Linked DNA regions of Homo sapiens: all the other regions are linked to region 3. Evidence: fine-mapped expression QTL. A gene starts in region 3. Each other region holds a variant in brackets. All regions are shown on one strand. Distances are from middle to middle. Region 1 overlaps NEMP2-DT (NEMP2 divergent transcript). Region 2 has its middle 45 kb from the start of NAB1. Region 3 holds the start of NAB1 (NGFI-A binding protein 1).

The links. PIP is the estimated chance that this variant, and not a neighbour inherited with it, causes the effect. A credible set is the group of variants that fine-mapping cannot tell apart.
Region 1: its variant is the best candidate, but not a certain one, in a credible set for the expression of NAB1 in vagina (GTEx, PIP 0.89).
Region 2: its variant is the best candidate, but not a certain one, in a credible set for the expression of NAB1 in whole blood (INTERVAL, PIP 0.60).

What each region holds. Positions count from the first base shown.
Region 1 is chr2:190,610,984-190,613,748 of GRCh38, reverse strand. The region is part of intron 4 of NEMP2-DT (NEMP2 divergent transcript); the gene reads right to left. It also overlaps a transcript of NEMP2 not described here. Among named protein-coding and RNA genes, the nearest start is that of NAB1, 37 kb to the left of the region's middle. The variant C/G (reference allele first, on the strand shown) is at 1,463.
Region 2 is chr2:190,692,925-190,695,689 of GRCh38, reverse strand. No RefSeq gene overlaps it. Among named protein-coding and RNA genes, the nearest start is that of NAB1, 45 kb to the right of the region's middle. The variant C/T (reference allele first, on the strand shown) is at 1,295.
Region 3 is chr2:190,648,021-190,650,785 of GRCh38, reverse strand. It overlaps NAB1 (NGFI-A binding protein 1), which reads right to left and starts at 1,703. Exons shown (of 10, transcript NM_005966.4): 1 at 1,426-1,703; 2 at 804-940. It also overlaps a transcript of NEMP2 not described here. RefSeq lists silencers at 1,193-1,792, 1,803-2,172, 2,203-2,252, 2,333-2,382, 2,393-2,442.

The DNA of each region.
Region 1 (2,765 bases), 37 kb after region 3:
GGGCATGGTGGTGGGCACCTGTAATCCCAGCTACTTGGGAGGCTGAGTAGGAGAATTGCTTGAACCCAGGAGGCGGAGGTTGCAGTGAGCCAAGATCTTGCCACTTGCACTCCAGCCTGGGTGACAGAGTGAGACTCCATCTCAAAAAAAAATAAATTATTGGTGAAGTAATATTAGAAATGTCTTAAGAGTTGCCAGCATACATTTTTGTTTGCATTTATTGATCAAGCAACTTTGTACTTAGCTCTGTCAAATACTATAAGGTGTCAAAATTTGGCGTAGAGGCTACAAAACTATAACTCAGCCCAAAACAGAATGATCTTTGCTGGTTTTTAATAAATAAAATGTTTTTTAAATAAATAAAACATTATTTTATTTATAGCTTGTTTTTAATAAATATAATGTTTTTAATAAAACATTAATATTGGTTTAATGAAGATAGCTACATCTTGAATTATTTAGTAAAATACCCTAATCTTGTGGCCTTAGGCAGTCTATTCCACAGACATAAAGAAAGTTCATCCTGGGAAAGGACTGTTATCATCTCTGTTTCAAAACTAAACTATGACCTTAGTTAATGAATAAGAATAGCTTTAAGGTAAGAAGTAAGATGGAGTCAGTTAGGTCAGATCATTTTCACTCTCTCAGTTATAATTTTGCATTGGTGATTTCATAACTTTTAATGATGACTATCACAGTTTTCATAAATAACATAGGTAAATGATTAAAATAAATAATTAGATAAATGTAATGGGACAAATATTTGCAGAATCCAAAGTTATATTAAATTAAACAACAGATATTTCATTATTTAGGTATTTTCCAATTAAAATATATTGTAGGAAAACATTCATTCTAAAAATTGTGTCCTTTTTAAAGGGTAAATAATTTTTGTCTAATTCAAAGCTTATTTAAAGGTTTTTTATATATAAAACAAGGTAAAAGGAACCAGGAAATAAGAGAGATATAAAGTAAGTTGTAAAAATAAAGAGAGTTTTAAAGTCTATTGGTAAAATAAAAATATCTTCAAAAATGTAAACATTTGGTCTAAATTATGCAGGTCAAATATTAAGTTTGCTAAATGCTTTAGGTCATAAACTTTTTTTGACTTAAAAAATTGTTCAATTTATTTTGGAGTGTTAAATTCTAGATAAGCCCTCAGGACACATGAAATTAGCCATGCCCCTAGCTATGCAAAAAGGTATTAAAGAAAAGATATTTTATATAATGAAGGATCTTGTGTGGTAAATTCTTGTCCTAAAGTAAAATAACTGGTTGTTTAAAAAGAGGGATGTGGCCGGGCGCAGTGGCTCACGCCTGTAATCCCAGCACTTTGGAAGGCTGAGGAGGGCAGATCACGAGGTCAGGAGTTTGAGACCAGCCTGGCCAATATGGTGAAACCCCATCTCTACTAAAAATACCAAAATTAGCTGGGCGTGGTGGCACGCACCTGTGGTCCCAA[C/G]TACTCAGGAAGCTGAGGCAGAAGAATCGCTTGAACCTGGGAGGCAGAGGTTACAGTGAGCCGAGATCATGCCACTGCACTCCAGCCTGGGTGACAGAGCGAGACTCCATCTCAAAAAAAAAAAAAAAAAAAAAGAGGGATGTTTAGGACAAGTCAGAAAGTCAAGTCAAGGCATGTCATAGCTTGTCTGTGTAGTCATGAAAGAATTTATGAAAGGGAATTTATGAAAGGAAAGAAATGTACAGTTTGAAGGTGATTAGGCCTCCTGAATGTTTTATAAAAATGCCACTAAGACTCTTAGCTGTACAACTTGCCTGGTGTACAGCTAGGTAAGGCCTGGGACACATGGAGTTTGAAACTGGAATAAGTCGGACCTTATCTGCATTTCTGCCTAGGTCCAAGGCTCCACACCTAGTACATAATTAAAATCCCAAACTTACCAAGGTTTTCACCAAAAGTAAAGGTTGCTAAAAGTTAACAGTGTAACATATATTTAAAACTATTGAAGAAACAGTTTACATGCAAGGTGTGTAAGGAAAGCAAAATATACTTCTAGTAAAAAGATTATAAGGAGTCATGAGAATGTGGATTTTTGCCTAGATTAAAAGGTTAAAGGACTGTTTTAAGTTGGATAAAATAAAGAGGAAGATTTAAACAAGTTGTGGAAGGTTGATTATAAAGGAAATTTTGTGTGTAAACATATTGGCCAAAGTTAAAGGGGTATCATCCAGTTTTTCTGTAAATTGAACATTAAAATAAAAGCACAGTGGGTTTCTCTTAAAGCACTAACCTGCTCTTTAACAAAAATTGTAAAGGGTTATAAAAGGTCTATACAAAATCTTACCTTATGGTCAAACATTAAAATTGGGTAAATCTGTCTATAAGGATTTGTTAAGAATTGGGTTTAACATTAATAGCACACTAACGTAAAGGTGAAATTTGGTTTATTTGGTATAAATATTATACAGAAAGCATTGTCAAATATGAAATGGTGTTTGGCTTTCTTTGGGCTATATTTGTATAAGTATGTTATTTGTATGTGTTCCAAAGTTATGGGAGACTCCTATAATTCTGATACATCTTAGTGTATGTTATGAGTAATAATTATAATTGTTGTGTTAAATTATTGTGTGCCACAGAGGTAACAGATATCCTTGTCAATTGTGTGTTTAACTATGGCTACCCTAAAACTTTTTGTCATCCATAATCAATTGTTGTCTTGTTTTGGTCCTCTGTAGAAGGTGATTTTATAATCAGCTATAAAGCTCTAACAGGTGCTCTTGAATGCAGGTTTCTGATAACT
Region 2 (2,765 bases), 45 kb before region 3:
CAATGTGATGTACTTAATCTACATTTTGCAACATTATGTTTTGATGTCAACATTGAACTATCACTACTTCTCAGAGACTGAAGAAGCTGATTCTTTTAATAAGTTAGAATGGAAAACTTAAATAGAATTGTATAATAAAGCAAACATTTCAATAGAAACTTCTAAAACTTAAAACTGTATTTAGGTAGGTTTCTCGATTTACATAAATGTAGCATAATGCTCTGTGCAGAGGAAATTTTTTAAACATTTTACTGAAAGTTATTCTTAAGATATTTAATAACTAAATTGACTAAAGTGCACTAAATATAAAGTCAACAAAAATTAGGAGAGGTAATTTCCCACTTCAGTGTCTTGATTGTGGTAATCAGTATACAATGTACTGGTATAAAAAACCATCACACTGTATACTTCAATATCTTTTTGTCAAATATTTTAAAATTAAAAGAATAAAATGGAAAAATAATGGTAACTAAGGATTTCATATGGATGTTGAAATAAGAACTAAGATTACTATTTTATGTGAGTCTGATGTTCCTTGAGGGTTTTACCCCAATTGCTAAAAAAAAAAAAAACTCATTAAAAATTCCTTTAAGATGAAGTGGTAGAAGCCAGACCTTTAACATTATTGGAGCAATACTTTGAAAGTAAATCACTTAGCAGTCAGAATAACAATTTGGAAATTGTGACCAAATAGTCAAACACAGCTGGGAGACCTAGAATTTAACAGGACATCGTTTTAACACTTAAGAATTGTGTGACCTAACAGATGGGAAGACTATAAAAGAGTAAGGCTTAATTAACCAACTTTGTAAACAGAACCAGTTCACAGTTCCCTTAAAAGTGATTACGATTTGCTAAACTTAGAAAGTAAAGATTTGTAAGCTGAACTTAACCTTAAGCACAATACATTTTTGCATTCTAATAAGTTGATTATGAACTTAAAAAATAAATTTCTGATTAGGCTTTTCTGCACAAAAAAAACACCTTTGAGGTGATCACAAAAAAAAAAATGTCATAGGTCAGCAGAAACAGATGCCAAAGATTTTTTTTTTTGAGACGGAGTTTTGCACTGTCGCCCAGGCTGGAGTGCAGTGGCATGATCTCGGCTCACTCCAAGCTCCGCCTCCCGACTTCACGCCATTCTCCTGCCTCACCCTCCCGTGTAGTTGGGACTACGGGCGCCCGCCACCATGCCTGGCTAATTTTTTTCTATTTTTTTTTTTTTAGTAGAGATGGGGTTTCACCGTGTTAGCCAGGATGGTCTCGACCTCCTGACCTCGTGATCTGCCCGCCT[C/T]AGCCTCCCAAAGATGTTTTAAAGGTTTAACTGTTGCATACTCAGAAAGTAAGAAAAATCCTAGCTCCAGCATTTTGCTTTTGATCACTTCTACATGAAATAAAAAATTGTCTTACAGGATCACTATGGACATAGTTAACAGTAAGATTTTTGATATTAAATTGTATTTACAATAAAAATGTCAGGCACTGGATCATTCTCTTATTAACTTTGGAGGCCTACTTACAAATTTCATTTATGAGGACACCCACAGATAAGAAGCTTGCATTCCCTGAAACACCACCCATGCACAGCTGGACCATATGGTGGCTTTTAGTAAAAGAGCAACTACTGTATTTGGTCATTCAAGCTGTTACAAACATACAAGGTTTGTTCAATTCTAACTTCAGCTACTTACTAATTGAATTGATTTCCTAAAAGAGGCAGACCTTCTGGCTTCATCAGGTTGGTTAATACCTTGGTTTTCTTTTGAAGACTTGATGTAGTACATTAAGTCACAAGCAAAATGGGCATTGTGTTAATAATACTTAACTATTTTGAGACCCAAGTGGACAGACCATAAGTTAGGAAATTCCCTGCATACTTATTTAGCTTTTAAGTCTTAAATAGTGTCAACTATAGTTGTAAAGGTACACTAGGTGCTAGTAGTCTCATAATTACCAAATCCTAAAGCTTTTACCCAAGTGGTTTCACTAATTAAGGACAGATGAAAAGCACCTTTCCCCGCTGCCTTTTGACAGATTTAGTGGATCGTCAAAGGAATGATTACCCAGGCAAGCAGATCTAACTGCCATGCAGTTTCAAAATAAAATTGCAGTAATTTAACAACAACAACAACAAAAACAACAACAAAAAAGCAGCCTCAAAGTGAAATGTACTGCCACTATGGCTTTTTATCAAACTCCACCTCTGAATGTTGATTTCAGTCCTGACCGATCTCTTCTGAATCTCACTCACTGAATGTGCTTTCTCTCACCTGTGAAGTGCCTGCTACCACAATGTCTGCCTAATACAGAATGCACTTAAATGTCAGCTCCTCATCCCAATATGTAAGGCACTGAAATTTTTATGTGAGTGGTATTAGTTCCTACGCAGCTAGGTTTTGGGCAAGGATCATATATTTCGTTTGTGACCTTTACCTCTTCCCTGGCACCTAGCACAGTGCTTGGCACACTGATGATCTTCATTAATCTATAGAACTCATCAATACTTGCTGAAAGGTTCTTCCTGGTTCTTTACTACAGGTTAGCTCAATTTCATATAATTAACCCATAACACTGAACCCAAATCACATTAATATTATACATATATGTATTATAGATGTTAAATCCTAATGTTCCTTTTATTAATATTTAGAAATGGTGAAGTTTTAAAAACGTCTTCATAAACTTCTACATAAATGAGAATATAAATTGACCTCTCTCTGCCAGACAAGAGTCTACTGAGAACCTGTTTACCAAATCATTTTTTA
Region 3 (2,765 bases):
AGATAATATTGTATGTCTTAAATGACACCAATATGGAGAAGAAAAAGCCTTTCATCTAAGAGCCACTTTTACTGGCACTCAGATTAGATCAGAAGCAGCTCTTTCAGGTCTTCAGGAAAAGCTCAATCTCCACCCAAAACAGAAAAAGCAAATCCTATGCATCCTCTCTCCTCATACTTCTTATAACCCACACACAAATTATGAAATATCATAATTCAGTATGTTGTTCAGGGAAAAATTTTCAAAAAAGTGAAAACCTAGGAAGGTAAGTCATTGCGTGAACACTTTTACAACAGCTAAGCATTTCCTACGTGACTAATCTATTTTAAATTCGGCTCCTCTGTTCCTATGCAATCTCATATTATCTATTAAAACTGCCAAAATATTTTTAAACAAGATCTGAGAATTCCTCTTTCAGCTTCTGATCTTTGCACTCTTTGAGTTGGCAGACACGTCACTGGCAAACCAACTGGTAGTGACAAGTTACTCCAAATCGACTCTTTCAGATGAAATTTTAAATTAACAGCCATCCCAAAATTTTCCGTGCCTCCCGAATCTCAGGGAGCGAGGTGTAAGTACATGCAAGTCTACGATTCCTCCCGATCACTCGCTGCAAAGCTTGGTCTGCAGAATCGACAAATGTATATTCCATCTCAACTATCCCTTTCCCCGAGATCCTGCAACATTCAGGCTTAACAGAAGTGTCATTTCCTATCTCAAGCTTTGGAAGCTCTGAGTTTGCAGACCACAAAGATTTGATAGTATTTTCAGTGTTTCTCCATGATAAGGTCACACACACACACCTCTATATCCAACGCTTGTATGTCCCACATGTGTTTCCAAATTCCTCATCGGCCTTAGAGACACAAAGAGTTTCTGGCTTCCCTGCACCTCAGCGCCAAGTTTCTGTAAGCCACTTCCATGTAAAACTCTCCTTCCGCTTTTAAAAAGAAAACTACATTCGGAAAGGGAAGATACCCAAGAAGAAAATCGAGACGGTAAGTGCAGCACTTTTATAAAGTAAACAAACAAAAAGACTGCCCTGACGAAGGTGGCTGCAAAACTCTGGGGCCGGCGCGCACAACCCACATCGCACACCCCCAGAGCGCCGTGTGACGCCCCCAGCCCCGTTAGCAAAACGGACTCGGCACCCCAACCTTTCTCGGAGGGAAAATGCACGAGTCAGGGCCGCGCTCCCCGCCGCCCTGGCACACAGAATGTCTCCGGGAATCGCCCACACGAGCCCGGGGCCGCCCTCTCCTTCCGGCGGCGGCCGCGCGGAGCCCGCTTCCCCCGGACACCGCCCCCAAAGTGCCCGCGTGGCCCCGCGACTCAGCCGCCCCAAGTTCGCCCGTGGCCGCTCAGCCGCGAAAGTGTCCCGCACTTGGCGGACCGGGAGTGGCGACCGTCCGCTCCGGTACGTACTCAGCCAGCGGCTGCAGCGGTCTTGGCGCGCTCTCCCCGAGGACTGCTCAGCCCCAACTCCGAAGCGACGGCCCCCGGCTCTCCCTCCTCTGGCGGCTGCAGGAGCCGGGACGCCCCCGCTCCCATCGAGGGGGGAAGGGAAGGTGGTGGGCGCGCTCTCTCTGCTCCCCCCCACCTCGGGCCCGCCGCTTCTTCCCGCCCACCCGCCCCGACGGCGCTCGCTTGGCCGCGGCGGCGGCGGCGGCTCCTCCAGGCTGCGGCGCGCGGGCGGCGGCGGCGGCGGCAGCGCCTCCCCCGCCGCGCCTTGCCCTCCCCTCCCCTGCCTTCCCCGCGCGCGCTACACCCTCCTCCCCCTCCCCCGCCCGCCTCCGCCGCCTCCACTCCCCCACCCCGCGCTGTCACATTGGGAGATTCCGCTCTTGCTACATTCGCCGCTCCGGCTCCCGCCCACGCGCGGCCGAGTGACGCAGATCCCGGCGTGGGCCGCCGCCGGGCGGGGGCGGGGGCGGCCGCTGGGCCCGGGGCTCGGCCCCTTCCCGCCGCCCCCTCCGCGGAATCCGGAGGACGGCCCATTCACACGGCAGCTGGGAGGAACCAAGTGGGCGCCGGGAGTGGGCGGCTCCCGCGAGTCCCGCTCCGGGCGCGGGGAGGGGACGACAAAGAGGGAGACGGGTGGGGAACGCCGCCTCCGGCCTGCTCTCCAGCTGCGGAGTGAACTGGGAAGGTTTGCAATTAAAAAAAAAAAATTATGTGTGAGGTTCCCGATATAGTATTTCAAAGAGCACACCCGCCAAATCCAACATCCTCTAGGAGGCTGACTTTAAAAAAAAAAAAAAAAAAAAAACAACAGCGCGCCGGGCTCCCCTGGCCCCCGCAGGCTCGGGGCAGAGGCGGGGAGGCAGGTGGTCCAGGTGCGCCCCTGCCCGGGGGGGCGAGGCGTCCGGCGGGAAGGCTGCAGCGACCGCATGGAGGAAGGGGCGGCAGGTGCGCGGCGCTGGAAGAACCGGCGGCTGGGAGAGCATCTCTGCCTCGCCCATCTTGCCCCCTCCCCACCTCCGCTCTGGCGTTGGGACGGGAGGAGGAGGGAGGAATGGAACCAGGGAGTCCGAAGTACAGCTTTGACAACTGTCGCGCTGGCCGGGTAATTTAATTCCAACCTTTTTAACCTCCTGAAAATCTGCCTTTTATTTTACTGTTTAATGTTTTTTGTGTCCATGGTGTAGAAAAACTACGGCGCTAGTATAGTGCTGGTGTGTGCTAAATTAGAGTTCCCAAGGCACAATATAGAATTTTTTGGTTTGCATAAACTTTGCTAACCAAAGTATTAAAGCACCTTCAAA